Linked DNA regions of Homo sapiens: region 1 is linked to region 2. The links come from fine-mapping of genetic effects on gene expression. A gene starts in region 2. The other region holds a variant in brackets. All regions are shown on one strand. Distances are from middle to middle.

The links.
Region 1: its variant is fine-mapped to the expression of NAA25 in breast (GTEx, PIP above 0.99). The same link has a PIP of 0.9 or more in thyroid.

The regions. Positions count from the first base shown.
Region 1 is chr12:112,409,044-112,424,536 of GRCh38, forward strand. PTPN11 (protein tyrosine phosphatase non-receptor type 11) reads left to right here and starts at 9,904. Exons shown (of 16, transcript NM_002834.5): 1 at 9,904-10,082. The coding sequence starts at 10,069. RPL6 (ribosomal protein L6) reads right to left here and starts at 562. Exons shown (of 7, transcript NM_000970.6): 1 at 544-562. RefSeq lists enhancers at 193-372, 8,461-9,109, 9,110-9,757, 9,532-9,791, 9,758-10,405 and silencers at 9,779-10,130, 9,842-10,411. The variant T/TA (reference allele first, on the strand shown) is at 6,237.
Region 2 is chr12:112,101,432-112,116,924 of GRCh38, forward strand. It overlaps NAA25 (N-alpha-acetyltransferase 25, NatB auxiliary subunit), which reads right to left and starts at 7,352. Exons shown (of 24, transcript NM_024953.4): 1 at 7,285-7,352. The coding sequence starts at 7,342. RefSeq lists enhancers at 1,201-1,701, 5,020-5,521 and silencers at 7,122-7,201, 7,222-7,301.

The sequences.
Region 1 (15,493 bases), 310 kb after region 2:
CAGTACCTTTCGTCTTAACCCTTAAGACCAGTGTCTCTTTTCAAGAAACTCGATTTAGGAATTGCGGACACAAACGGAATCAGCCCAAATTGAGCCAGAGAAAAAGATCGCAAAGACCAAGAGGCGACTTCCGGTCGGGGACGCTGGGAGACGCGAAACCTTTTGGCTTCAGTGCGGAACCCCAACGTGGCTGCGACAGGCTCAGTGTCATCCTCTGGAACCCAGGACCAGGAACACAGTGCACGCGCCGTCTCCCCGCTTCCTCTAACACCCACCAGTCTGCTACGGGTCCCCGAAAGGGCCTCGTTCCCCCAGCCCAAGAGAGTGGCGAAGAACCGGAGGGAGCCACTACGGCATTCTACCTCACCCTCTTTGTGCCCTGCCGCAAACCCAAACAACAAAAATGAAGCGTCTGGAAGGCCTCTCAGTTAGCCTTGGACATGTCCGACCCCTGTAGGTGTCGACTGGATGCCCTCCAGGTTCGGATGGCGAAGGATTGGGAGTCCTGAACTCAAGTCTTGCAGACAGGCCCGCGATTCTTACCTTGCAAGATGGGAAAGAGAATTAAGGTCCCGGCTTCCGGTCTATAAGCAATCATGGGAAGTGCGAGTCTCACTTCCTTCCGGATCTGGGGCATCATGGGGAATGTAGTATTTCCCCGTTAAGAAAAAAGTAGTAAATCCTAGGCCGGGTGCGGTGGCTCACGCCTGTAATCCCAGCCCTTTGGGAGGCCGAGGCAGGAGGATCCTCTGAGGTTGGCAGTTCGAGACCAGCCTGGCCAACATGGTGAAATCCCGTCTCTACTAAAAATACAAAAGGTAGCCGGGCGTGGGTGGTGCGTGTCTGTAATGACAGCCAGTCGAGGCGCGGAGGCAGGAGAATCACTTGAATCTGGAGGTGGAGATTGCAGTGAGCCAAGATCGCGACACTGCGCTCTAGGCAACAGAGCAAGATTCTCAAAAAAGAAAAAAAAAAAAAAAAGGGCCGGACACGGTGGCTCACGCCTGTAATCCCAGCACTCCAAAGATCGTGCCACTGCGTGCCACCGCACTCCAGCCTGGGAAATAGAGCCAGACTCAGTCTCAAAACAATAACAACAACAAAAAAAAGAAAAAAAGAAAAAAAATTAGCCGAGTGTGGTTGTTAGTGCCTGTAGTCCCAGCTATTCGGGAGGCTAAGGCGGGAGGATCACTTGAGTCTTGGAGGTCTGGGCTGCAGTGCAGTGAACTCTAATCTTGTCACTTGAGATTAGGTCAGTGGTCCCCTCTTCCCTTACCTTGGATTTAGCGGCTGACTACTTCCTCTTGTACATGGCCTTTCTCATTCCCGTCCTCCGGCCTGGCCTACAGAATGAGACTCTGTCTTAAAAAAAGTAAAAAAAAATTAAAGTGAGGATAACAATAGTAACTTACTTCATAAGGATGTTGGGAACATTAAATAATATATACAACAGTACTGAGAAGCATATTTGATTATTTGATGGATGGTAAATGCTACATAAGTGTTAGCTCTTTTTTTTTTTTTTTTTTTTTTTTTTTTTTTTTTTTTGAGATGGAGTCTCGCTCTGTCACCCAGGCTGGAGTGTGGTGGCACGATCTTGGCTCACGGCAACCTCTGCCTCCTGGGTTCAAGTGATTCTCCTGCCTCAGCCTCCCAAGTAGCAGGGATTACAGGCGCACACCACCATGCCCAGCTAATTTTTTGTATTTTTAGTAGAGACAGAGTTTCACCATGATGGCCAAGCTGGTTTTGAACTCCTGACCTCAAGTAATCCACCCGCCTCAGCCTCCCAAAGTGCTAGGATTACAGGCGTGAGCCACCGCACCTGGCGAACTGTTAGCTCTTGTTATTGTCACCATCACCACTACAATCATCTGATCATCAACATCCTAGTTGTTGTCAAGTATTCTGCTAAAGTTTATGCATGGGAGATAATAGGCAATATTGCATACAATGTGCCTTGCTTTATTTCATTTAATTCTCCCAACAACCTGTGAATGATACTATTATGAGGAAACTGAGTCTCAAGGACATTAAGTAACTTGCTCACAGCATAGATCTGATTCCAAAGATTGCACTCTTAACCATTAGGCTGCAAGATTAAAGAGATGATTAATGAAGATGCATGAGAGTTTTGCTCATGTTAGAATTAAAAATAAGAATATTTATTATCTTTTACAAAATACACAACACAGTATATGTGATAGTTCTTTACTGCTTCAAAGCCCTTAAGCCAACATGTACACATTTGTAATACCTTCTAGCTTGCGTTTTCCATTTTCCTCCATTCGTTTCTTTCTGGTTGCTAGAGCTTTTCACCTTGATTTTTTCAGATCGAAACCACCTGCTTCATGGCTGTGTCTCTGGGAATCATTTAGCCTTTTTCTGGTTCTGATTCACTGAGGATACAAATACAATGATCAGATGAACACTGCCCTTTTTTTTGAGAATGGGAATGTCAGCAGCTTTATTTGTTTAGCTTCCTCAGCAAAGCACCTCTTAGAAACTTCAACTGCAGAAAATGTACCACAATGAATGAATGAGATGCACAGTTGCTTACGTGGGCCCCTCAAAATTGCTGGCAATCTCAGATAATTTCACCTAGTGAACGCCCCAAAATATGTGTTGAATGACCTGTCATTAAAATAAAAACGTAGATGAACCCCCTCTTGTGTTTTGTTGCGGTATTGCAAAATTTACAATTCATTAGTTGGGCAAAATACCATGTTAGTTATAAAGTAAATGTTTTTATTAAGTTTAGTTTTGCCATATATAAAATTCTCTGAAATTTGTGCAGCACTTTAATCACAAAGCAGACATTTTTGCAGACACTTAATCTTTTTTTTTTTTTTCTGAGATGGAGTCTTGCTCTGTCGCCCAGGCTGGAGTGCAGTGCCGTGATCTTGGCTCACTGCAACCTCTGCCTCCTGGGTTCAAGCCATTCTCCTGCCTCAGCCTCTTGAGTAGCTGGGATTACAGGTGCCCGCTACCACACCTGGCTAATTTTTTTTTTTGAAACAGAGTCTTGCTCTTTTGCCCAGGCTGGAGCGCGGTGGCATGATCTCGGCTCACTGCAACCTTCGCCTCCCGGGTTCACGCCATTCTCCTGCCTCAGCCTCCCGAGTAGCTGGGACTACAGGCGCCCGCCACCATGCCTGACTAATTTTTTGTATTTTTAGTAGAGGTGGGGTTTCACTGTGTTAGCCAGGATGGTCTCGATCTCCTGACCTCGTGATCTGCCCGCCTCGACCTCCCAAAGTGCTGGGATTACAGGCCTGAGCCACCTTGCCCGGCCAATTTTTTGTGTTTTTATTGGAGACAGGATTTCACCATGTTGGCCAGGCTGGTTTTGAACTCCTGACCTCAGGTGATCTGCTCACCTCGGCCTCCCAAAGTGCTGGGATTACAGGCGTGAGCCACCTCGCCCAGCCTAATTTTTTTTTTTTTTTGGAGACAGAGTCTCGCTCTGTCGCCCAGGCTGGAATGCAAGGTGAGATCATGGCTCACTGCAGCCTTGACCTCCTGGGTTCAAGCAATCCTCCCACCTCAGCCCCCTGAGTAGCTGGGAGTACAGTGCACACCACCATACCTGGCTAATTTTTTTACATTTTTTGTAGAGACAGGGTCTCACAATGTTGCCTCAGCTGTATTTTTTGTTTGTTTGTTAGGCAGTAAATCTTTTAAAGCCTGGCCAACATGGTGAAACCCCATCTCTGCTAAAAATACAAAAATTAGCCAGGCATGGTGGTGCATGCCTGTAATTCCAGCTACTTGGGAGGCTGAGGCACGAGAATCACTTGAACCCGGGAGGCAGAGGTTGCAGTGAGCCGAGATTGTGCCACTGCACTCCAGCCTGGGCCACACAGTGAGACTCTGTCTCAAATAAATAAATAAATAAATAAATAAATAAATAAATAGAAAAATATCTTTATATGTGTTATGTATGTGTGTGAGCCTGTGTATGGGATGAGTTTGTGTGTTTGTATATGTATAAAGTGTGGAAAGACATACACCAAACCATTAACACTGCTGGGGATTGGGATATGGAGTACGTATGCATCAAGGAACAGAGAAAATTACTGTTTGTTATTTAGTTTGTTGCAAGGAACTTGTATTGCTTTTGTAATTGAGAAAGAAATTCAAATAAAGTAATGGCTATTATCTGAATTAATCTCTAAATGAATATATCTTTTTAAAATTAAGATGGAGTTGGCCGGGTGCGGTGGCTCACGCCTGTAATCCCAGCACTTTGGGAAGCCAAGGCAGGTGGATCACGAAGTCAGGAGATCGAGACCATCCTGGCTAACACGGCGAAACCCCGTCTCTACTAAAAAATACAAAAAAATTAGCCGGGCATGGTGGCGGGTGCCTGTAGTCCCAGCTACTCGGGAGGCTGAGGCAGGAGAATGGTGTGAACCCGGAAGGCAGAGTTTGCAGTGAGCCGAGATTGTGCCACTGCACTCCAGCCTGGGCGACAGAGTGAAGACTCCATCTTAAAAAGTAAATAAATAATAATAATAAAATAATTCAGATTGAGGTTTTTTTGTTTTGTTTTGTTTTGTTTTGTTTTTGCTATGTTGCCCAGGCTGCCAGTCTGGTCTCAAACTCCTGTCTCAAGAGATCCTCCTGTTAGCTACCATGCCCGGCCATATAAATGAATATGCCAGGCACTACTCCAGGCATATAAAGATGGGAAGACCGGCCGGACATGGTAGCTCATGCCTGTAATCCTAGCACTTTGGGAGGCGGAGGCAGGATGATTGTTTGAGCCCAGGGGTTTTAGACCAATCTGGGTAACATGGCAAAACCCTGTCTGTATTAAAAAAAAAAAAAAAGGAAGACAATGACTTTGTCTTAAAAGGAGATCATAATCTAAAGAAAGACACAGAACAACAATGACAGAACCCACAATGATGTTGAAATGTGTTAGGTGCTGATAGAAGCATGAAGAGGCAGCCCCAGGAGCATAGGAAAGGAGTCTCTCTTTTATTCTCAAAAAGTGAAAGAATGTTTTCTGGAGGAGCTGCTTAAGTTGGAGTTTAACCTTGCATGACTGTTTTCCAGGTGGAGAAGGGTTTGAAGAGTATTCCAGGCAGTAGGAACTAAATTTTGGAAGACAGGGATGCAAGAAACAGCTAGAAGCCTTTAGAAACTGCTAGATTATGTGAGGGTGTTGGCACAGGCCATATCTAGAACGGACTGATGTGCTAAGGGAAGGAGTTCAACTTAATGCTAGAGGGTTTGAACCTCCTTCATACAACAGGGGAGGGGAGTGACGTGATTAGATTTGTATTTTTAAAAGATTATTCATTCTAGCTGCAGAGTGTGCAGAATATAGGAAACACTAGGAAGGTAGTAGTTCCTGCACTCAAAGAGCTAATAGTTTACTTTGGAAAAGAGACAAATGATAGCCAGCTTTTATCAAGTGCTGACTTTGCCAGACACTGTTCTGAGTATTTCACAAACCTATCCTATGGTAGGATTTTGATTCCTACTTTGCAGAGAAGGAAACAGACACAGAGGAGTCAAATGACTTGCTTATAGACACCCAGGCAGCTAGATCAAGAACTTAATTGGCAGCCAGGCGCCGTGGCTCACGCCTGTAATTCCAGCACTTTGGGAGGCCGAGTCGGGTGGATCACGAGGTCAGGAGATCAAGACCATCCTGGCTAATGCGGTGAAACCCTGTCTCTACTAAAAAAATACAAAAAATTAGCCGGGCGTGGTGGCAGGTACCTGTAGTCCCAGCTACTTGGGAGGCTGAGGCAAGAGAATGGCGTGAACCCAGGAGGCGGTGCTTGCAGTGAGTCGAGATCACGCCACTGCACTCCAGCCTGGGAGACAGAGTGAGACTGTCTAAAAAAAAAAACAAAACAAAAAAAACCCACAAAACTTAATTGGATGCTTCCTATATGATACGGCTCTTAGATTTATAGTGTAGCATGTTAGGTTCTAAGGATAGGTGTCTTGGTGACCATCTGACCTGCACTAGAGAATCGGGTGAGGCTTGTATTCCAGAGGAAGTGGCTCCTAGCCTGAGATCAGAGGCATAGAGTTGATGTGGAGGACAGTCAGGAAGAACCCTCTGGGGAAAGAAAGCAGATTGTTAAAAGGCTCTACGCTGGGAAAGAATATGGCATATTGAGGGGAGCTGAAAGTCATTCAGCATGGCTGGGTCATAGAGAATGAAGCGAGTAGTGGGGAGACGGGGTGGTGAAGTGATTGGGGACCAGAGT[T/TA]AAAAAAACTCTGGTGCATTGGCTCACGCCTGTAAATCCAAGGCCTTGGGAGGTCAAAGTGGGAGGACTGCTTGAGGCCAGGAGTTCAAGGCCAGCCTGGGCAACATAGCAAGACCTTGGGTCTAAAAAAATTTTTTTAAACTTTTTTTTGGGCCGGGCATGGTGGCTCACGCCTGTAATCCCAGCACTTTGGGAGGCTGAGGTGGGTGGATCACTTGAGGTCAGGAGTTGGAGACCAGCCTGGCCAACATGGCGAAACCCTGTCTCTACTAAAGATACAAAAAAAATTAGCTGGGCATGGTTGTGCGTGCCTGTAATCCCAGCTACTTGGGAGGCTCAGGCAGGAGAATTGCTTGAATCTGGGAGGTGGAGTTTGCAGTGAGCCGGGATTGCGCCACTGCACTCCAGCCTGGGTAACAGAATGAGACTCCAACTCAAACAAAACAAAAAACTTTTTTTTTTTTGTAGGGACAGGGGTCTTACTCTGTTGCCCAGGCTGTTCTTGAACTCTTTGGGCTCAAGAAATCCTCCCACCTAGGAGTCCCAAAACACTGGGATTACAGAGGTGAGCCACCACATCCAGGGGGATAAACCTTTTTTTTTTTTTTTTGGACTTCATTCTAAAATCAAGGAGAAGCCATTGGTGAATTCAATGTAGGGAGTGACTAGTTTTGCAGTTTTTTTTTTTTTTTTTTTTGAGATGGAGTCTCGCTCCGACGCCCAGGTGGGAGTGCAGTGGCGCAATCTTGGCTCACTGCAAGCACCACTTCCTGGGTTCAAGCAATTCTCTTGCCTCAGCCTCCTGAGTAGCTGGGACTACAGGTGCCTGCCACTGCACCCAGCTAAATTTTGTATTTTTTTTTTTTTTTTTTTTTTTTGAGACAGAGTCTCGCTCTGTTGCCCAGGCTGGAGTGCAGTGGTGTGATCTTGGCTCACTGCAAGCTCCACCTCCTGGGTTCACGCCATTCTCCTGCCTCAGCCTCCCGAGCAGCTGGGACTACAGGTGCCCACCACCACGCCCAGCTAATCTTTTGTATTTTTAGTAGAGATGGGGTTTCACTGTGTTAGCCAGGATGGTCTCGATCTCCTGACCTCGTGATCCGCCCGCCTCAGCCTCCCAAAGTGCTGGGATTACAGGCGTGAGCCACCGCGCCCAGCCCTAAATTTTGTATTTTTAGTAGAGATTGTGTTTGACCATGTTGGCCAGGCTGGTCTCAAACTCCTGACCTCAGGTGATCCACCCACCTTGGCCTCCCAAAGTGCTGGGATTACAGGTGTAAGCCACCGCACTTGGCCACAGTTAATTGTATTTTTAGTAGAGACGAGGGTTCACCATGTTGGCCAGACTGGCCTCAAACTCCTGACCTCAGGTGATCCACCTGCCTTGGCCTCCCAAAGTGCTGGGATTACAGGCATGAGCTACCGCGCCCCGAGTGACCCGCCTAGTTTTGTAGTTTAGATTACTCTGGCTACTATGTGGAGATTGGATTAGGAAGTTTAGGCCTGCAGGCCTGAGATCAGTTAAAATGTAGCTTGTCATCTAGCTGGCCAGGATTTAGGGAGAGGGACAACTGCTTGTTAAATGGCTCTTATGTGAATTAAATTGGCATATATTAAAGGTGATCTTTGTAAGGAGCACATGATGCTGAAGCAGTTAGCACACAGTATGAGACTCACTTGTATATGAATGAAATGGGCAAGCATTAAAAAAATGAGGATTTTGGAGCTATACAGATATGGGTTAAACTTATGGCTCTGCCATTCACTAGATCTGTAGCCTTTATTTATTTATTTTTGAGAAAGAGTCTCACCCTGTCACCCAGGCTGGAGCGCAGTGGTGCAGTCTGGGCTCACTGCAACCTCTGCCTGTCCGGTTCAAGCAATTCTCCCACCTCAGCCTCCGGAGTAGCTGGGACTACAGGTGTGCGCCACCAAGCCCGACTAATCTTTGTATTTTTAGTTGAGACGGGGTCTCACCATGTTGGCCAGGCTGGTCTTGAACTCCTGACCTCAAGTGATCTGCTCTCCTTGGCCTCCCAAAGTGCTGGGATTACAGGCGTGAGCCACCACGCTCAGCTAGATCTGTAGCCTTCAATGAGTCATATGCGCATCAATCAAGTAAAAGCTCTACTCTTCTCAATCTGGTCTGAGCTACCATTATTCCCAGACCAGAATACTATAGTATTCCGTATTTTGACTGGCTTCTCTGTTTCTGGCCTTGCTCTCTTGCTCGAGCTTCACAGAGTGTCCAAAGTAATACTTCCGTACCACCCGGCCCGGCTTTTTTTTTTTTTTTTTTTTTTTTTTTTAAGAGACATGGTCGCACCATGTTGCCCAGGCTGGTCTTGAACTCCTAGGCTCAAGCAATCCTCCTGCCTCAGCCTCCCAAAGTTCTGGGATGAAGGCGTGAGCCACCATACCTGGCCTGAGTGCAGTGGCGCGATCTCGGCTTTCAGCAGCCTCGACCTTCCAGGCTCAAGCAATCCTCTCACCTCAGCCTCCCGAGTAGCTGGGACTACAGGCGCGCGCCACCACGCCCGGCTAATTTTTGTATTTTTTGTAGAGATGGGATTTCACTATTTTGCCCGGGCTGGTTCCCAACTCCTGGACTCAAGCGATTCGCCCGCCTCAGCCTCCCAAAGGGAAGTGCTGGGATTTCAGGCGTGTGCCACCGCTCCCACCCCAAAGTAGTATTTATTGTAATTATTATTATTATTTTGAGACGGAGTCTCGCTCTATTGCCAGGCTGGAGTGCAGTGGCGCGATCTCGGCTCAATGCAACCTCTGCCTCCCGGGTTCAAGCGATTCTCCTGCTTCAGACTCCCAAGCAGCTGGGACTACAGGCGCCCCCCACCACGCCAGGCTAATTCTTGAATTTTTAGTGGAGACGGGGTTTCACCATGTTGGCCAGGATGGTCTCGATCTCTTGACCTCGTGATCCGCCCACCTCGGCCTCCCAAAGTGCTGGGATTACAGGCGTGAGCCACCGCGCCCAGCCTATTATTATTTTTTTAGGCAGTGTCTTGCCCTGTCGCTCAGGGTGTAGTGCAGTGGCGTGATCACGACTCACTGCAGCCCCGACTTCTCGGGCTTAAGTTATCTTCCCGCCGCAGCCTCCACGCCCGGTTAGTTTTTTGCATTTTTTGTAGAGATGAGGTCTTGCTTTTTTGCCCAGGCTGGCCTCGAACTCCTTGGCTTAAGCGAACCTCTTGCCGCAGCCTCCCAAAGTGTTGGGATTACGGGCGTGAACCACCGCGCCCAGCCTACTATCTTTATCTTACAGAAAGAAAAGAATGGAGGAAACCGAGGCTCGGAGACAGTAGGTAATTTCCCCAAGGTTCCACAGCTAATGAGTGGAGCGGCGATTTGTGGAACGAAATGAATGAAATCGATGTGGCAGCGGGCCCGGACGGGTCGGTGGCGTAGACGCGGAGCGCGCAGCTCACACCTGGCGGCCGCGGTTTCCAGGAGGAAGCAAGGATGCTTTGGACACTGTGCGTGGCGCCTCCGCGGAGCCCCCGCGCTGCCATTCCCGGCCGTCGCTCGGTCCTCCGCTGACGGGAAGCAGGAAGTGGCGGCGGGCGTCGCGAGCGGTGACATCACGGGGGCGACGGCGGCGAAGGGCGGGGGCGGAGGAGGAGCGAGCCGGGCCGGGGGGCAGCTGCACAGTCTCCGGGATCCCCAGGCCTGGAGGGGGGTCTGTGCGCGGCCGGCTGGCTCTGCCCCGCGTCCGGTCCCGAGCGGGCCTCCCTCGGGCCAGCCCGATGTGACCGAGCCCAGCGGAGCCTGAGCAAGGAGCGGGTCCGTCGCGGAGCCGGAGGGCGGGAGGAACATGACATCGCGGAGGTGAGGAGCCCCGAGGGGCCCGGCGCGGGCCTCGGCCCGGCCACCGCCGCGTTCGGTTAGCCCCGTCCGGAAGGGGGCGCCCCGGCCGGGCTTCGGGCTCCCGCCCCGGGTCGGGGTTGGGGGCCGGTTCCCTCCTCGTCCCCTCGCCCTCCAGGGGCCGGGGGCCGGCCCCACCGCGCCCCCACCCCTCGGGTCCCCATTCATTTCCTGCCTCCCCGAGTTCCGGCTGCGGCAGCCCCGGGGATGCCCGTCAGGCCCGGGGCAGGTAGAGCCGCCGAGGGAACCACGGGTGCCAGCGGCCAGGCTCAGCGCCGCATTCCTGACCCATTGCCTCATGAGAATTGCCTCATGGTGATTCCGAAATAACCCTGCTCACTTGGGGAGGCTCCTTGGGACACGAGAGGGGAGTTGCGCGGGGCCGGGCCCCCAGTGGTCTAGTCGTTCTGGCTCACTGTGCCACTTTCGTGCATTTGGGGACTTCACGCAGGACCCCTGACCCTTTTATATGCCTCTTTGTGTCTTCTTTTCCTCCTACCCCTCACGTGCCAGAAATGGAAAAACTGACTGTATCTGCAGCCACTAGAAGTATTTCCTTCCTCTGCGATCTTCGCTTTGGGAGATGGAAAGGAAGGGAGCCGCATCTCGTTATTTAATCCTTCACTGCAACCTTAACAGTCAGGTCACTTTACTGGTACCCGTTTTATGGATGAGGAAACCGAGGCCCAGAAGCAACATGCTAGTAAATGACAAGATTTGAAACTTAGGAGGATTAGTGAGTTAATGAGATCCTTTGAAAGGTCAGGGTAATACTACTACTAATAGCTAACATTTGCTTAGTTCTGACCACAGCCCTATCAGATGGCTACTATTATCCCCATTGTAAAGATGAGTAAACCGAGTTTCAGAGGTTAAGTAAATTGCCTAACCTCACAGCTAGTAGGTGGTGGAGACAGAATCCCTACTTTTAATCACTATGTTGCTTCTATTATTTTGTAACTATTGCTAACCATTTGTAAGCCTTAATTTTGTTGTCAAACAGTAGTGTGACCTGTTGTTTTCAGATAGTGATCCTGCTATTTTGTATAGTCACTCTATATACCACTCACACTTAAGACCCATTGTCTATTCTTTTCCATGATTGTTCAATTATGGTCACTGTCTCAGACATTTAAAAAACGATTCAAGCTATTGAGGCTATTTGAATGAGATTTTCTTTTCTTTTTTTCTTTTTTTTTTTGGAGACGGAGGCTCACTCTGTTGCCCAGGCTGGAGTGCAGTGGCGCAATCTCGGCTCACCACAATCTCCGCCTCCTAGGTTCAAGCGATTCTCCTGCCTCAGCCTCCCAAGTAACTAGGACTACAGGCGCACCACTATGCCCGGCTAATTTTTGTATTTTTAGTAGAGACAGGGTTTCACTATGTTGGCCAGGCTGGTCTCAAACTCCTGACCTCGTGATCCGCCCGCCTTGGCCTCCCAAAGTGCTGGAATTACAGGCGTGAGCCACCGTACCCAGCCTGAATGAGATTTTTCAAAATATTAGGAATGTCTCCTCCAAACACACCTGGCATGTTATTCATACATGGATCTGGAATTTAAAAAGGGGAGAAAAAGAAAACTGAGAACTCGTAGGAAGTGAGTGACTTGGACAGGTCGGTTGGCAAGTGCTTACAGATCTGGGTAATATATAACTGCATTTCAACAGAACAGTGTATAGCCTCAAATGTTCTAATTCTTTAGGGAGCTTTTAAATAAACAGTTGTCTATTCTTTAATCTGTCAAATAGTCATTGAGCCTTTTGTTCCTGGTGTCTGCTCTTCCAGACAAGTAAGGATCTGCTGCTTTAGGAGACATCAGACGGGGCTGGGGGTTGGGAAAAGGTCTGGGTAGTAATAGACCCTACATTGTCCAGTTTGTTCATTTAGAAGCATAGAAGTGTGGGCATAGTCAAAGTAGCAAGTGGTAAAGATGACAGTTTGAAATGGAGTAATTCCTTCTCCCCTCCAGCCCTGGTATTATGCACCACCCAAAAAGCCGGGTTATGAACATAATACACATAATTTTGAATGATTCATTATTTTTTGGATTATAAGCCTGTTTTATTTGTTAACCAGCCTTAATGAGGTATAAATGACATGCAATTAATTGCATATATTTAAATGTACAATTTGATCAGTTTTGACATACATATACACTTGGGAAACCACCACCATAGTCAAGATAATGAACACATCTATCACCCCTGGTAATTTTGCCTTATGTTCTTTATAATCCTTCCTTTGTTCTTAGGCAGCCACTATTCTGCTTTCTGTCACTATGTATTAGTTTGCATTTCCTAGAATTTTATTTTTAAAAATTTTAAAATTGTTTGAATAGAGATGGGGTCTCACTGTGTTGCCCAGGGCAGTCTCAAACTCCTGGGTTCAAGTGATCCTCTCACCTTGGCCTCCTGAAGTGTTGGGATTATAGGCATGAGACACCCTGCCCAGCCCTAGAATTTTATTATTATTGTTATTATTGTGTTTTTTTGAGATAGGGTCTCACTTTGTTGCCCAGGCTGGAGTGCAGTGGTGCAATCACTGCAGCCTTGTTTTCCTAGGCTCAATCCATCCCCCCTCCTCAGCTTTCCGGTTACTGGGGCTACAGGTGTGCACCACCACACCCGGCTAATTTTTGTATTTTTTTATAGAGACAGGGTTTTGCCATGTTGGCCAGGCTGGTCTCAAACTCCCGGGCTCAAGCGATCTTCCTGCCTCGGCCTCCCAAAGTGCTGGGATTACAGGCATGAGCTATTGCGTCCCGCCTTCAAATTACTTTAACCTAGTATTAATTCATTCAACAGGAAGTTAATGAGCCAGGCAGGATAAAGCAGTAAGATAGGAAAATATTGCTATTTTCATGGCTGAGAGAGAGCAGACAAACACATGACTAAATAGGGCAATTTCAGGTAGTAATAAATTCTAGGAGGGAAAAAATCCCACAGAAATGTGAGGATGGGAGAATGCAGTTAGTTTTGATAGGTGGTTTAGAGAAGGTGATCGTGTGAGCTGACACCTGAATGACAATTAGTAGTCTGAATTTTGTTTTGCTTAATTATCAAAATAACTCCTCTTGGGTTCGGCTTTTATATGCATCCAGTAATTAAAATGTAAGTATATTCAATGTACTGATATCTCTCAGCATCATAGGTAGGAAAACTAAGGCATTCAGCAATTAAGTGACTCCTCCCTTGATCATGTAGCAGTGATAGTACTGGATTTAGATTTTGAGGTTGCTTCTCTGCCCTTTTCTGCCTTTGTGAAACCAACAAAGCTGCCTGTATTTTCCAACTCTTCCTTCAGCATGTGGTACCTCCTTTACATCTGTTTTTGTTGCTCTGAAATCCATACGCGACGATGAGCTGAGAGGGGCAGAAAATTGAGCTTGTTCTGAGACTGGAGGCTTTTGGTTTATCTCTTGCAGGTCAAGTACATTTTGTCCTGGGCTCTCCCTGGTGGCCACGTTTGTTTATCTCCTGCGGGAGTAAATAAACTTGCCTTGCTGAAAAATAACAGTTCTGTGTCTTTGCAGTGGAAACTGGGATGTCTTTATTAACGTTAGGTCCTGATGTAAGGCCAAGTTTTTGGTTAGAGTTGCTCAAGTGCAGAGGCCACTGCTAAGATGACTTACCCCTCGTGTCCATGGTCAATGTGGAGACTGTTATGAGTGGCACATGATGCTGGAAAAGCAGAGCCAACTCATGTTTGTAATTGTCCTAGCAGGCCGTGGTGTACTTTGTTAGGCAGCCACAGAACAATAGAGAAACTCAGCTTATTCCCCTTCCCTCTGGGAAACACAGACAGTACTTGCCATCCAACGCCAATGTTTTTAAGGAAGAAAGAGGCAAAAAGTGATGTTGGCAAGGTCTCTGGGAGTTGTGGACCCCAACCAAGGATTGGAGACCCTGAAATGGATTCAGATGCCCTAAAATGCAGCCCAGTTCATTACTATGAATTTTGGAGGACTTTGTGCCTTGAGCAAATGTGTATATGTGACGCTCTTTGACAACACTGAAATAGGAAAAATACTATCCATGTTCGCGAGGAGCACTGAATTTAGAGAGGGAGACAGACTTTTATGCCAGCATCAAATGAATTTGATAAAGCTAGTACCAAAATGAAATTTGAAATTTTTTTTTTTTGAAATAGAGTCTTACTCAGTCACCCAGGCTGGAGTGCAGTGATACAATATTGGCTCACTGCAACCTCCACCTCTTGGGTTCAAACAATTCTTGTGCCTCAGTCTCCTGAGTAGCTGGGATTACAGGTGCGTGCCACCATGTCTGGCTAATTTTTATATTTTTAGTAGGGATGGGGTTTCACCATGTTGGCCAGGCCGGTCTTGAACTCCTGGCCTCAAGTGATCTGCCCACCTTGGCCTTCCAAAGTGCTGGGATTATAGGCATGAGCTACCACACAAGCCTGAAATTTGAAATGTATTGGTATAGAATATACTGTTTAGAATGTATGTGTATATATGTATATTTGTATACTCATATAAACACAAATACACATTGTATGTGTTTCTGTAATATGTATATCTGTCTACACATACATGTATATACACACATACAATGTCTTTTTTTTTTTTTTTTTTTTTTGAGACAGGGTCTTACCCTGTTGCCCAGGCTGGAGACTGCAGTGGCATAATCTTGGCTCACTGCAGCCTCGACCTCCTGGGCTCAAGTGATCCTCCCATCTCAGCCTCCTGAGTAGCTGGGACTGACTACAGGCACGTGGCATCAAACTTGTCCAATTTTTCTATTTTTTTGTAGAGTTAGGGTCTTGCTCTGTTGCCCAGGCTGGTCTCAAATTCCTGGGCTCAAGCTGTCTGCCTGCCTCGGCCTTCCAAAGTACTAGGATTACAGATGTGAACCACTGTACCTGGCCTTTACAATGTCTATTTTAAAGATAATGGTTCAAGTTTTTATCATCCCACTGGCCTACTCTAATGAAACATCTATCCATTCATTGAAGAATTATTTATGGTGGGATAACTCTGTGCCAGGTACCGTGCTAGGCATTGAGTATTCCAGGTTTTAGGAAACAGCACATGCAAAAGTGCTGAAGTGGGAGAAGATCTCGGAGTGATTGAAGGCTAGGAGAGAGCAAGTGTGGGAGCTGTGAGGCTGGGAAGGTGGGAGGTAGGTGGGAGCAGACCACATAGGGATTCTTAATGTCTTTAGTGTCATGTGGACCATGGAGAGGAGTGTAGATTGTATTTTTAGAGCAATGCAAAATCATAGAAGGATGTGATCGGGGGAGTGGCATGAGCTGATCTATTTAAAAATATTTCTCTGGCTGCTGTGAAGGAAGGATTGTAGGAGGCAGGAGTAGATTCAGGGAGATGAGACAAGTGATGAGAGAGGCTTTGA
Region 2 (15,493 bases):
CAGTCTGCTAGAAAAATGAAAGATATATATATAAGATAATACAGGCCGGGTGCGGTGGCTCATGCCTGTAATCCCAACAGTTTGGGAGGCCGAGGAAGGTGGATTGCTTGAGGTCAGGAGTTCAAGACCTGCCTGACCAACATGGTGAAATCCCATCTCTACTAACAATACAAAAATTAGCCAGGTGTGGTGGCAGGTGCTTGTAATCCCAGCTACTTGGGAGGCTGAGGCAGGAGAATCACTTGAATCCAGGAGGCGGAGGTTGCAGCGAGTGGAGATCACGCCATTGCACTCCAGCCCAGGTGACAGAGTGAGACTGCATCTTAAAAAATCTATCAAAAAAAAAAGATAATACAAAGTGATCACAACAGGAAGTTCAAAGAACCAGTGATTAGTGATGGCTACCAGCTATTAAATTTTTTCCAAATCTTTTCAACTTTTTTTTTTTTTTTTGAGACAGAGTCTAGCTTTGTCACCCAGGCTGCAGTACAGTGGTGCAATCCCGGCTCACTGCATCCTCCACCTCCTGGGTTCAAGCTATTCTCCTGCCTCAGCCTCCCGAGTAGCTAGGATTACAGGCGTGCATCACCATGCCCAGCTAATTTTTTTGTATTTTTAGTAGAGATGGGTTTTCACCACGTTGGCCAGGCTGGTCTGAAACTCCTGGACTCAAGTGATCCACCCAGGAGGCGGAGGTTGCAGCAAGCTGAGATCGCACCATTGCACTCCAGCCTGGGCGACAAGAGTGAAACTCCATCTCAAAAAAATAAAATAAAATAAAAATTTAAAAAACTAGCCAGGCATGGTGGCATGTGCCTGCAGTGCCAGCTACTCCAGAGGCTGAGGCGGGAGGATCACTTGAGCTCAGGAGGTCGAAGCTGCAGTGAGCCATGTTCACATCACTGCACTGCAGCCTGGACAACACAGCAAGACCTTGTCTCCAAAAACAGAAAAAAAAAAAGAAATGTACTAATCTCTTCATCTTGCCCTATGTTTCAACAACTACCCTCTAATCTATGTATTCATCTAAGAATATTTTTGTGCACTAAAACCTTCATTTTCAGTTTAAAAGTCTAGGTCAGGGTTTTTTGTTGTTGTTGTTTGTTTGAATTATTCAGCTAAGACAGCAGAATAGTTTTTTGTTTATTTGTTTTGACATAGAATCTTGCTCTGTTGCCCAGGCTGGAGTACAGTGGCACAATCTCAGCTCACTGCAGCTTGAAGTTCCTGGGTTCAAGCATGCACCATCACACTAGCTGCCCCCCCGCCCCCCGCAATGGAGTCTCGCACTGGAGCCCAGGCTGGAGTGCAATAGCGCGATCTCGGCTCACTGCAACCTCCGCCTCCTGGGTTCACGCGATTCTCTTGCCTCAGCCTTCTGAATAGCTGGGATTACAGATGCACACTACCACACCCGGCTAATTTTTCGTATATTTTTAGTAGAGACGGAGTTTCACTATGTCGGTGAGACTCGTCTCAAACTCTTGACCTCATGATCCGCCGGCCTCGGCTTCCCAAAGTGTTAGGATTACAGGCGTGAGCCACTGCACTCAGCCCTATTTTTTATTTTTTTGAGATGAAGTCTCGCTCTGTCCCCCAGGCTGGAGTACAGTAGCACAATCTCAGCTCACTGCAGCCTCCGCCTCCCGGGTTCAAGTGATTCTTCTGCCTCAGCCTCCTGAGTAGCTGGGGTTACAGGCGCCTGCCACCACACCTGGCTAATTTTTGTATTTTTAGTAGAGATGGGGTTTTGCCATTTTGGCCAGGCTAGTCTCGAACTCCTGGCCTCAAGCAACCCACCCACCTCGGCCTCCCAAAGTGCTGGGATTACAAGCATGAGCCACCTCACCCAGCCAAACCACTGTGCCCAGCTTTGTATGCTTGTTAACACTTGGCCAAAACTGAACACAAAAATAGTCCAGAATGTCACAGGTCCAGGGCAAAAGACCAACAGGGACTGTTTTGGTTATGAGCAAGGTTTTGGTATGGCAGAGGTGGTCTCAGCCATCCAATGGTGATGGAAGTTCTAGATTCATTGAGAGAAGTTCTAGTAAGTCAGGGCTTTTTAAATGGTCATATTTTCAGAATGGAAAAAAATAGGTTGTGCCAAGTGACTTTTCTACAGAAACGCAAGATAGTCTTCACTCACCAAGGTACCCTGTCACTTCTGAGGCAAAATAGGACCAGACTCACAAAGCTACCACACTGTCCAAGAGGAGGTCAGAATAAATACCACTTTTGATTGAGGACCTGCAAGTTTTCATTTATGAACTAGAGCAGTGGTCCCCAACCTTTTTGGCACTAGGGACCGATTTCATGAAAGACAATTTTTCCACAGATGGCAGGGAGGGATGGTTTCGGGATAAAACTATTCCACCTCAGATATCAGGCATTAGTTAGAGTCTCATAAGGAGCGCCAACCTCGATTCCTCACATGCATAGTTCACAACAGGGTTTGTGTTCCTACTCCTAAGAGCTGATCTGACAGGAGGCGGGGCTCAGGCAGTAATGCTCTCCCCCACAACACCCTGCTGCTCACCTCCTACTGTGCGGCCCATTTCCTAACAGGCCACAGACCAGTATCACACACCATCCTGGGGTCAGGAACTCCTAAACTATGAACTATAGTGGAATAATTACCTGAGCCAGGCACCCAAGAGAAATGTCCTAACTCAGCAAAGAAGTGACTGTCACCCGGGAGACACACTGGAAAATATCTTACACCTGATCCAGGCTAATCCAAGACTGCAGGTCAGTACGACATATTAAAACAAGGGATCTCATGCCTGTGTATGTGTGTATATTCTAAAGACTATGCACACATTTTTTCTACTTTGAACTTTCTCTATTTCTATTATGCAATTTGCTGACCTAGCAATTCCCATATTCTATACAAATTTATTAAGTGCCATACCTGACCATCAATTCCACTTCCAATTATCTAAAAATATGAGCGTGAAATTAAAAACAAAAAAGAAAAAAAAGAAAGAAAAATAAATAAATAAAAGTATGGGGTAGAGGAGGCTGCATAACAAAACAGAGTCAAATATTTATTATCTCCCTCCATCCCTTCCCTTCCCTAATCCATAACCACTGAAAATGTTTTAAAATTAAGAATAATGGGGCCAGGTGCAGTGGCTCACGCCTGTAATCCCAGCACTTTGGGAGGCTGAGGCAAGTGGACCACATGATCAGAAGTTCAAGACCAACCTGGCCAATGTGGTGAAATCCTGTCTCTACTAAAAATACAAAAAATTAACCTGGCGTGGTGGCGGGCGCCTGTATTCCCAGCTGCTCTGGAGGCTGAGGCAGGAGAATGGCGTGAACCCGGAAGGTGGAGCTTGCAGTGAGCGGAGATCACGCCACTGCACCCCAGCCTGCAGGACAGAGTGAGACTCCATCTCAAAAAAAAAAACAAAACAAAAACAAAAACAAAAATTAGCCGGGCATGGTGGTGCATGCCTGTAACCCAGCTACTCAGGAGGCTGAGGCAGAGAACTGTTTGAACCCAGGAGGCAGAGGTTGCAGTGAGCCAAGATCGCGCCACTGCATTCCAGCCTGGGTGACAGAGCAAGACTCCTTCTTAAAAAAATAATAATAATAATGGGCAGGGCGCAGTGGCTCACGCCTGTAACCCCAGCACTTTGGGAGGCCAAGGCAGGCAGATTGCTTGAGCTCAGGAGTTCGAGACCAGCCTGAACAACATGGTGAAATGCTGTCTCTACAAAAAATACAAAAATTAGCCAGGCGTGGTGGTGCCCGCCTGCAGTCCCAGTACTCAGGAGGCTGAGGTGGATGGATGACTTGAGCCTGGGAAGTGGAGGTTACAGTGAGCCAAGACACTCCAGCCTGGGTGACAGAGCCAGATCCTGTCTCAAAAAAATAACGAAAGAAGGCACTGGGGCTTACCAAGTCACACAAGAGTACAAAATCTGCTGGGAACTACGTAGCAAAAGAGAATAATTTTAGCAAAAGGAGACCAAATAATCAAGTATGGGTTCCAGTAAGGTCATGGGTGGAGGTTTTCAAAAACGAAAAATGCAATACCCAAACTTATTAGTAATGTGAGATGCACTGGGAAGATGTTTCAAATCTATGCACACAGAAAAGCTATTCCAACCCTAGACACCACCAGTAAAATTTCAACCCACCACAATTTATCACCACATAGCCCTGTCCACATATACCCTCAATGAATTCCAGCAAGAGCTGAGGCCCCAAGCAAGGTTTCCAACACAATTGTAAAATAAATCCTGAAACCTTGGCAGTACAAATACTGTTGTACAAAGACAGTGATGCTACTGAATCTGAACTTGGTGAAGAGCTGAGCTCTCAGTGAGAATGTCTATGTTCAAATCCCAGCTCTACAACTTGGTAGCTACAACCTTGAGCAAGTTAATCTCTAGGCTTCAGTTTGATCACAATAATCTTACCTACCTAATAGGGCAGTCAGCCCACCAGTAAACACTAATTAATGCTGATAGTTGTTGAATTTTTGGCTGGTGGGCAAGTACCACCATAGATGAGTTTGTTCATTTGTCAGAATGTCTGAATTCAAGGAACCATGGTTGTTTGGGGGTAGTAATGTATTTAAACAACAAAAGTGTGGAGTTCAAAAGTCAAATGTGCTTAAGTGCTGAATTCACGGACAGTCTGTACCGTTCTTTTCCTAGTCCTGCCAGTTTATACTAATCGCCTTAGAATTACTGAAGAAAGCCTCTTCTAATCCTCTTCCCATGTACATGTTACAAAAGCTACATAATTCTGACTTCAGTTTTGAGAATATAACTTGTTAATATATCCTGATGTTTAGTGATGTGAAATGGACATGGTGTTTCCCATTAGACAGTCAAAACACTATTAATTCTAAATAACTATGGGACCAAAGAAATTCTCTTTGGTCCTCAAGAACAATTTTAAAAATCAAATTATTCTTGAAAGTATTGAGTGTTTTTAGTTTAAAAAAAAAAAAGTCTGCAGGCAGCTGCTGCACAAAGCTGTAATGAGTCACAAACTATGAACCCTGGATTCAGTTCTCACCTTCCATCACCCACCTTGTATATATATCTCTGCCCTCTGAAAATATACACTGGAGGGCAAGGGCATGAGAATATGCAGCCCCGGGGAAATAGGAAATCAGAGTCCTTTCTCTGCCACTTACCATCTGTGTGACCTCAGGCAAATCAGTGTCTTCAGCTCAAAGTGAGGTAGTTTCTAGCACAGTGGTTAAGAAGGTGAGCCTGGGCCAGGCACAGTGGCTCACACCTGTAATCCCAGCACTCTGGGAGGCTGAGGCAGGACTGCTTGAGCTCAGGAGTTTTAGACTAGACTGGGCAACATGACGAAACCCATTCTCTACAATATATACAAAAATTAGCCGGCATGGTGGCGGGCACCTGTAATCCCAGCTACTCAGGAGACTGAGGCAGGAGAATCACTTGAACCCAGGAGGCGGAGGCTGGTTGCAGTGCACTGTGATTGTGCAACTGCACTCTAGCCTGGATGACAGAATGAGACTGTCTCCAAAAAAAAAAAAAAAAAAAAAAAAAAGGTGAGCCTGGAGCCAGGCATGGTGGCTCACACCTATAATCCCAGCACTTTGGGAGGCTGAGTAGGTCAAGAGTTCAAGTCCAGCCTGGCTAACATGGTAAACTCCTGTCTCTACTAAAAACATGGAAGTTCGCTGGGCCTGGTGGCGTGCAACTGTAATCTCAGCTACTCAGGAGGCTGAGGCAGGAGAATCGCTTGAACCTGGGAGGCAGAGGGTGCAGTGAACTGAGATTGTGCCACTGTACTCCAACCTGGACGACAGAGTGAGACTCATCTCAAAAGAAAAAAAAGGTGAGCCTGAAACAGTCCACAGGGGTTCAAATTCTAGCTCCAAGAAATACTAACTGAGTGGCCTTAGACAAATTACACAACAACAATAAAGCCTCAGTTTCCTCATCTGTTTTTTTTTTTGTTGTTGTTGTTGTTAAAGGGTTCAGGGGCAGGAAAAAACAGTAGCCACCTCTTGAGAATGGGTGAAGATTATATTAGATAACCCATATAAAAGGCCAAGGCCAGTGACTGTCATAATGAGTCATCTATAAACCTTAGCTATAGGATTGTTGCTAAAATCAAATGAGATGTGAGAGTAAAAAAAAAAATCACACAAATTATGAAATAAAAGCCGGACTAACTGTGGCCAGAAACAAAGTTAACCACCGCCCCCCGCTCCCAAAACGATTCCCACCTTGGAGAGAAGCCTCCAATTTAGTAACATCCACATGAGGTCTATAAATACGATGTCTACTTTTGTAAAAACCACTGACCTTGAAGCTTCCTCACCATTAAGTGAGATAGACCAAGACCATAAAACCATCTAAGAGGAAAGGAAATGCAAAAAGGACCAATCCAATTACACATTTCGGTTATTGGAAAAGGGTTTCTCCCAAACTCAAAATCTGTGATTTTTCACTACCAGGGTAAATGGATGAGATGACATCAAGGTCTTCAAGTCTGCGGGTTGAGGTAAGAGTTGTGGAGAGGGATCTGCTTAGCACAGGGAAGGAAAGCTGCAGAGAAAACCACAGAGAAGCTGCAGAAAGGAGAAGCCCTCCAGTAGCTCTGCATGCCCCTCTGACACGAGCTATCACAATCTCTTCACCGCTATTTTAGGCCCAAGACCCCCTCCCCCCGCCTCCCACGTGTGACCAGAGTAGCTGCTTCTCCACCCAACAGCTCTGGATTGGGAGCCTGGAATCTCGGGCCTGCTCCTGACTCGATCTGGGTGACCTTGCGTCAGCCCCTTCCCCACTCCGGACCTCAGTTTCTCCTATGCACCGAAGCCCACCTAGTCAGACAACCCTCTAGGCCCAATTCCCGTAAATAAAAAAAAATCTCTGGTAGGGAATCTTCCCTCAGGCAGGGCGTCCCACCCTCGTGCCGGAGCCGGCTTCCACCTTCGGGGAGATCTCCGGTCTCCCTAGGAGCGGCGGTAACGATGCAGCCTGCGGGTAGCGCAGGTGTCTGCAGAACCACGCGTCCCACGGGGCCTGCCAAGCAGGCCAGCTCTGCCGACCAGCTGCTGCCCAGACCGCGCCACTACCACCCCAAGGCTGAGGAAGGTTGGGCCGGCGCCTACGCGAGGCCCGCGGCTGCGGCCTAGTGGCCCGCGCGGCCCGCCCCCCTGCGCCTGCCCGGCCCGCGCGCCGGCCCTCAGCACCCCTCCTGGGCTTTCGCCCCAGCCTCGGCAGCCCTCGGCGCGTCGGGCTGGCGAGCGGGCTGGTCCAAGACACTCACCGTAAATGGGCCGGAGGCGCCTGTCGTTAGGGTCCTGCACATGGCCCCGCGTCGCCATGATGACAAGCGCAGAACCACAGTGCGCACGCGCGGGGCAGGACCCCGGGAAAGGGCTATTAAAGGGCCAGCGTCGATCTCGCTTGTCTATCACGATAGTCGCGGTGCTGCGACTGAACGCGCCTGCGCGGAAAGGGAAGCATCCACCCTTGCCGATTGCCACCTCTTTAAACGCTGTTCCTTCACTTAGCAGGTGGGATCAAGCTGGCAAGAGGAGGCAGCTGTTGCTGTTAAAGTCTTCCGAGTCACTGACTGGGAAGTTAGGAGAGGAGGGGAGAAAGCTCTCAAAGTTAGGGTTCGGCTGCTCCTGTTTATCCTATTTATTCTCCGTCCTGAAGAACCAGCTAGACTTGGCTGTGATTAATCGCAGAGGAACCAGAAACTCCCGGGGGAGAGAGACCCAGGGGAAAGTTGGGGAAGCGGGGCTGATCAACAGCAAAAATCTGCCAAAAAAGTTCGAGAGAGCCGGGCGCTGTGGCTCAGCCTGTAATCCCAGCACTTTGGGAGGCCGAGGCGGGCGGATCACAAGGTCAGGAGATCGAGACCATCCTGGCTAACACGGTGAAACCCCATCTCTACTAAAAATACAAAAAAAGTTAGCGGGGCGTAGTGGCGGGCGCCTGTAGTCCCAGCTACTCATGAGGCTGAGGCAGGAGAATGGCGTGAACCCAGGAGGCGGAGCTTGCAGTAAGCCGAGATCGCGCCACTGCACCCCAGCCTGGGCGACAGAGCGAGACTCCATCTCAAAAAAAAAAAAAAAAAAAGAAAAAAGTTCGAGAGCCCTCCACCACCTGTTCCTGGACCAAACTGAGCGTCAGGCTGCTGTTTCTCCTGGTTCAGTAAGGAGATGCAGATGAACTGGAGAGGAAGCGAGTTTTTATTTCTGCAACCAGTTACAGGGAGAAGGCCTGGAAATTATCACCAGACCAACTTAAAATTACAAAGCTTTCCAGAGCTTATATACCTTCTAAGCTATATGTCTACGTGTAAATGTGCATTCATCTAAAGACATAAGTGATTAACTCGCCGGGCGCGGTGGCTCATGCCTGTAATCCCAGCACTTTGGGAGGCCAAGGCGGGCGGATCACGAGGTCAGGAGATCGAGACCACGGTGAAACCCCATCTCTACTAAAAATACAAAAAATTAGCTGGGCGCAGTGACAGGCGCCTGTAGTCCCAGCTACTAGGGAGGCTGAGGCAGGAGAATGGCGTGAACCCGGAAGGCGGAGCTTGCAGTGAGCCGAGATCCCGGCACTGCACTCCAGCCTGGGCGAGGGAGGCTCCGTCTCAAAAAAAAAAAAATAATAATAATAATAATTGATTAACTCACTTTAGTCTATAACTAAGGTTTGAGTCCTGAAGACTTTCCTTTGAAGCCTCAGTAAATTTACTTAATCTAAATGGCAATAGGTGCTGGGGTGATTATCCTTATCTTGCCTCCTACTAAATCACGGAGGTTTGGGGAGTTACTTCAGACCCCCAATAAAATTTGTTTAATCCTAAATGGGTCCTGTTAGGAATTCTTTCGTTATTTTGTCATGCTTTAAGGCCAAGGAAAGGCCTAGGCAAAACTCTTGGTGGGCTTTTGTTACATTCCATCCTTTGTATAAGGGCACTGGCTTTTTTTTTTTAGCTTTTAATATGTAACTTAACCACTCAGTTAGTACTGAAACAGTTGTTATGGAGGCCTGTGTTAGTGAGACCTGGCCTGCCACACACCCTTCTCCCAGGACTCAGCCAACAAAGAAGCATCCTAGATGAATACTTACTCGGTATCTGCCTAGAGTATTTAAATGCAAGGTCTTTACATTTATTCTCTCATTTAATTTTCATAACTGTCATCGTATTTCCCTGGGAGGTAGATCTTATTATTACCTCTCTTTTTACAGATAGATTTATTCGTACAACACTGAGTTATTGAGTGCCTATTATTTGACACACTCTTGTTTTAGGCACAGAGGATACATCAATAAATAAAATAGACAGAGACTTAATGGAGTTTTTATTTGTAGTGAGGGAGACAGACAATAAATAAGTAGATAGCCTATTACATGGTGATAAATGCTACTGAGAAAAATAAAGCAGGAAAGGGGGGCAGTGAGAGAGGGAGGTAATTTTAAATAGTGTGGTAAGGCTGGCTTGGTGGCTCACCCCTGTAATCCCACCACTTTGGCAGGCCAAAGTGGGTGGATCACATGAGGTCAGGGGTTCAAGACAAGCCTGGCCAACATGATAAAACCCCTTCTCTGCTAAAAATACAAATATTAGCTGGGTGTGGTAGTGTGAGCCTGTAACCCCGGCTACTCAGGAGGCTGAGGCAGGAGAATCGCTTGAACCCGGTAGGCAAAGGTTGCAGTGAGCCAAGATCGTGCCATTGCACTCCAGCATGGGCAACAGAGCAAGACTCTTGCATAAATAAATAAATAGGCCGGGTGCAGTGGGTCGTGCCTGTAATCTCAGCACTTTGTGAGGCCGAGGCGGGTGGATCACCTGAGGTCAGGAGTTTGAGACCAGCCTGGGCAACGTGGCGAAACCCCATCTCTACTAAAAATACAAAAAATTAGTCAGGCGTGGTGGCACGTGCCTGTAATCCCAGCTACTCCCGAGGCTGAGGCTTGAACCCGGGAGGTGGAGGTTGCAGTGAGCCAAGATCATGTTGTTGCACTCTAGCCTGGGCAACAGAGCAAGACTCCATCTCAAAAAAAAAAAAAAAAAAGGAAGGCATTTAAATACTCCAGAGGTCGGGAATGGTGACTCACGCCTGTAATCCTAGCACTTAGGAGGTCTAGGCGAGCGGATCACTTGAGGACATGAGTTCGAGACCAGCCTGGGCAACATGGCAAAACCCCATCTCTACTAAAAATAAAAAATTAGCTGAGCGGCTGGGCACAGTGGCTCACGCCTGTAATCCCAGCACTTTGGGAGGCTAAGGTGGGTGGATCACGAGGTCAGGAGATCGAGACCATCCTGGCTAACACGGTGAAACCCTGTCTTTACTAAAAATACAAAAAAATTAGCCAGACGTGGTGGCGGGCACTTGTAGTCCCAGCTACTCGGGAGGCTGAGGCAGGAGAATGGCGTGAACCCAGGAGACGGAGCTTGCAGTGAGCCGAGATTGTGCCACTGCACTCCAGCCTGCAACAGAGTGAGACTCCATCTCCAAAAAAAAAAAAAAAAAAAAAAAAATTAGCTGAGCAGGGTGGTGCGCACCTGTAATCCCAGCTACTCAGGGGGCTGAGGCACAAGAATCACTTGAGCCCAGGAGGTGGAAGTTGCAGAGCCGAGATTGCAACACTGCACTCCAGCCTGGGCAACAGAGGGAGACTCTGTCTCAAAAATATATATAAATAAATAAATACTCCCTGGATAAGGATCATTTGAGCCCAGGAGTTTGAGGCTGTAGTGAGCTATGATTGCACTACTGCACTCCGGCCTGGGTGACAGAGCGAGACCCTGACTCTCCAAAAACAAACAAACAAAGACTCCCGGGATGAAGTTATCAGGCAAAGTACAACAAAATATTTGAGACATACATACATACATTCACTGTTTATCTTAAATTCAAATTTAACTGGGTGTCCTGTATTTTTATTTGCTAAATCGGGCAACCCTGCGCTAGGGGAAACTCCATGCCCCCCAAATCATGCTAAGCAGCAACAATGAAGGGCAGATGCCTCAGGCAAGCTGACCCTAGGATCACTCAGAGATGGTGTGTGACCCTGCTGAGGTTGGGCTAGGACAGGGAAAAGGAGGGAGGAGAGCTGGGGTTCACCTTTGGTGCAAGTGAAAGAGATGATGAGTCACCTGAGATTTAAGAATTTCCCAGGAATGGAAAAATACAGCACCTTTAAGGGGAGCACATATGAGGCTCCTAACCAAGGCTCGGGTTACTCAGCCATGTTCTTACGCTACCTTTGTTGGCCTGGCCCCAGAGGAATGCTGATAGACTTGGCACCCAGCTCCCTGAACTTGGCAAGACCAGGGCATCATATGGATCTACCTAGCAGAGGCTTCTAGAGTCTTAGGTCACCATCCTTAGTGGGATATATTTCCCTCCACTCTGAAAGACTGCTTAGCATCCAACTAGGATTAATTGGTTGTTCTCTTTTCCCATTCCTACTGCTTGTCCTCAGAACCTAAGAATGAAGCAGTGACTCGCTAGGCTCTGGGCCTGTCCTTACCTGCCGCTGGGAGGCAGCTTGCACACCCTTTGGCAGGCCTGAATCTTTTCGGGTAACAAGATGACCTCTGAGGAAGCCAAAAGCCCATCCTTGCTGTACAATTCAGAACTTGGAGCTCTTAGCGATGACATTATGGAAAAGTGCTTGGTATACAGCAGGTGCTCATTAAGTAGTGTTTTCCATTTTCTCAACTTAGAGGAGGGGCATACAGTCTTCATTTGGTAACATTTTCTCTAGTGAGAAACATTCTCCCTGGCCGGGTGTGGTGGCTCATACCTGTAATCTCAGCGCTTTGGGAGGCTGAGGCAGGTGGATCACTTGACGTCTGGAGTTTGAGACCAGCCTGGCCAACATGGCAAAAACCCATCTCTACTAAAAAATACAAAAATTGGCCAGGTGTGGTGGCCCACACCTCTAATCCCAGCTACTTGGGAGGCTGAGGCAGGAGAATCGCTTGAACCCAGGAGGCAAAGGTTGCAGTGAGCCGAGATCACGCCACTGCACTCCAGCCTGGGCCACAGAGCAAGACTCTGTCCCCCTACCGCCAAAAAAAAAGAAGAAGAAGAAGAAGCAGAAGGAGAAGGAGAAGGAGGAGAAGGAAAAGGAGAAGAGAAGGAGGAGGAGGAGGAGGAGAGGAAGAGGAAGAGGAAGAGGAAGAAGAAATGTTTTCCCTAAAGGGCAGTGAGACACCTGGGTGCTTTGTGCCTGAATAGCTAAGGATACCAGGGAGGGGGACTGCATTACTTGAATATGGTGATGTGGGTGTCTCCATCCAATGATTCTTCTAGTTTTTCTTTTTTTTTTGCGGGGGGGACGGAGTCTCGCTCTTTCGCCTGGGGCCGGACTGCAGTGGCGCTATCTCGGCTCACTGCAAGCTCCGCCTCCCAGGTTCTCGAGTAGTTGAGACTACAGGCGCCCGCCACCACGCCCGGCTAATTTTTTGTATTTTTAGTAGGGACGGGGTTTCACAGTGTTAGCCAGGATGGTCTGGATCCTCCCGACCTCATGATCCGCCTGCCTCGGCCTCCCAAAGTGCTGGGATTACAGGCGTGAGCCACCGCGCCCAGCCTATGGTTTTATTTTTAACACGTAAATATTTGATCCATTTGGTATTTATTTCCATATGAATAATAAGGTAGTCTTTCGGCCAAGCGTGGTAGTTCACACTAATCCCAATACTTTGGGAGGCCAAGATGGGCAGATCACTTGAGGTCAGGAGTTCGAGACCAGCCTGGCCAACATGGTGAAACCCAGTCTGTACTGAAGATACAAAAATTAGCCGAGCGAGGTGGTACGTGCCTGTATTCCCAGCTACTCAGGAGGCTGAGGCAGGAGAATCACTTGAATCTAGGAGGAGGAAGTTGCAGTGAGCTGAGATCTCACCATTGCACTCCAGCCTGGGCGACAGAGCAAGACTCCCTCTCAAAATAAACAAATTAAATAAATAAATAAATAAATAAATAAATAAATGTCAGGTGCGGTAGCTCATGCCTGTAATCCCAGCACTTTGGGAGGCCGAGGTGGGCAGATTGCCTGAGCTCAGGAGATGACAACTAGCCTGGGCAACCTGGTGAAACCCCATCTCTACTAAAAATACAAAAAATTAGCTGGGCGTGGTGGCGTGCGCCTGTAGTCCCAGCTACTTGGGAGGCTGAGGCAGGAGAATTGCTTGAACCCAGGAGGCGGAGATTGCAGTGAGCTGAGATCTCGCCACTGCACTCCAGCCTGGGCAACAGAGCAATACTCTGTCTCAAAACGAATAAATAAATAAGGTGAGATTTCAATTTTATCTTTTTCAGTTGTATCTATCTATCTATAGTGGTCATATAAATATATATAGTAGCTGTATAAATATATAAAGGGAATATATATATACATATATATACACATGTATATATTTTTGTTTTGTTTTGTTTTGTTTTTGCCGGGTGCGGTGGCTCGCAGGCTGGGCGCAGTGGGTCACACCTGTAATCCCAACAATTTGGGAGGCCAGGGTGGGCGGATCACTTGAGGTCAGGAGTTCAAGACCAGTCTGGCTAACATGCTGAAACTCCATCTGTACTAAAACCACAAAAATTAGCCGGGCGTGGTGGCAGGCGCCTGTAATCCCAGATTACAAGAGAGGCAGGAGAATCACTTGAACCTTGGAAATGGAGGTTGCAGTGAGCTGAGATCGCGCCACTGACTCCAGCCTGCGTGACAGAGTGAGACTCCATCTCAAAAAAAAAAAAAATATATATATATATATAAAATGTATTTTATATATATATATATTTTTTTTTGGTAGAGACAGGTTCTTGAACACCTGGCTTCAAGCAATCCTCCCACCTCGGCCTCTCAAAGCCAAGGGAGCCACCATGCCTGACCTCAACCCCTATTTATTGAATAGTCCATCTTTTTCACAAAGCACCCAATGCCATCATTATCATATATTAAATTTCCATATGCATTTCTGGCTAGTCATGGAACAGTCTCTAGTCTCTATTCAAGGGCAGGTCAACACCGGAGTCTGCAGAGTTGGCTGGATTATCTGATCTGAGTCTGGGCTTGCTCTATACAGCCTCTGAACTACTCAACTCTTGGGAGAACATTGTCAGCTGCATTTGGGCTACTGGATGCTAAGAATGAGGCCCTTGATTTGGAATGAAGTCACCTTGAGGGGGTAGTGCTGCTTTGTGGCCAGTTCCCTGAGAAAGCGTATGAGATAAGGAATTAAAACCACCCAGGAAATTTTTTAAATAATTCTAAAATTTATATGAAAATAGTAATGACCTAGAATAGCCAAAATGGCAAGGCCAGTTGCAATGGCTCACATCTGTAATCCCAGTACTTTGGGAGGCCAAGGTAGGACGATTGCTTGAGTTCAAGACCAGCCTGGGCAACATAGCAAGACCCCCATCTCTACAAAACTAAAAAAATTAGCTGGAAGTGGTGGTGCACCCTTGTGGTCCCAGCTACTCTGGAGTGTGAGGCGGGAGGATTGCTTGATCCAGCCAGGAGTTTGAGGCTGCAGTGGGCTATGACCCTTTCTCAAAATAAATAAATAAATAAAGCCACATTCGTTAAGACTGTGGAGAAATAGCATAAGGATAAACAGGTAGATGTGTAGAACAGAGAGCCCAGAAATAGATTCTATACATATGGTCACTTGATTTATGACAAAGGCCCAAGTGAAATTCAGTGGAGAAAAGATTTTTTCTCCCAGTAAATGGAACCATAGGTTATGTTTTTATTTATTTATTTGGTCTGTTTGTGAGGCAAGGTCTCACTTTGTCACCCAGGAGGGAGTGCAGTCACACAATCACAGCTCACTGCAGCCTTGAACTCCTGGGCTCAAGCGATCCTCCTCCCTCAGTCTCCCGAGTAGCTGGGACTACAAACACACATCAGAATGCCCAGCTAATTTTTTCACTTTTTTGTAGAGGCAGGGGTCTTGCTATGTTACTCAGGCTAGTCTTAAACTCCTGGGCTCAAGCAATCCTCCCACCTTTGCCTTCCAAAGTGCTGGGATTATATATATGTGTGAGCCACTGTGCCCGGCCTCACACCTTAGGCAGTGTTGGGGGAGAGAACTGAGTGAGGGCTTTTCCTGGGAAATCAGACTAAAACAAAGTGATCCTAACTCTCCTCCTCTAGACACTAGGAGGGTCTCTGCAGGTGTCTGTGGGTTGAAGCTGCCCGGGGAAGGCAGCGGTGGCCCCTGGGAACTCTGCCTGGCAAACAGGCAGCCTGGAAAATGTCCCAGCATGCTCTGAGGCCTCTGGTCCAATCCCAGTCCTCCTCATGAATATGTATGAGTCCCCAGTTATCAGCTGCGGCTCTGAGCCTCTTCCTCCCTGCTCAACCCCCCACCGCTCTCTTCCCCACACAAACATCCCTCACCCTTCCTCTTCTCCTTGATAACTGTCAACATCTCTTGCTCCTTGCTTCAGAACTGATGAAATAATGTGAACATTTCAGGGCCTGAGGAC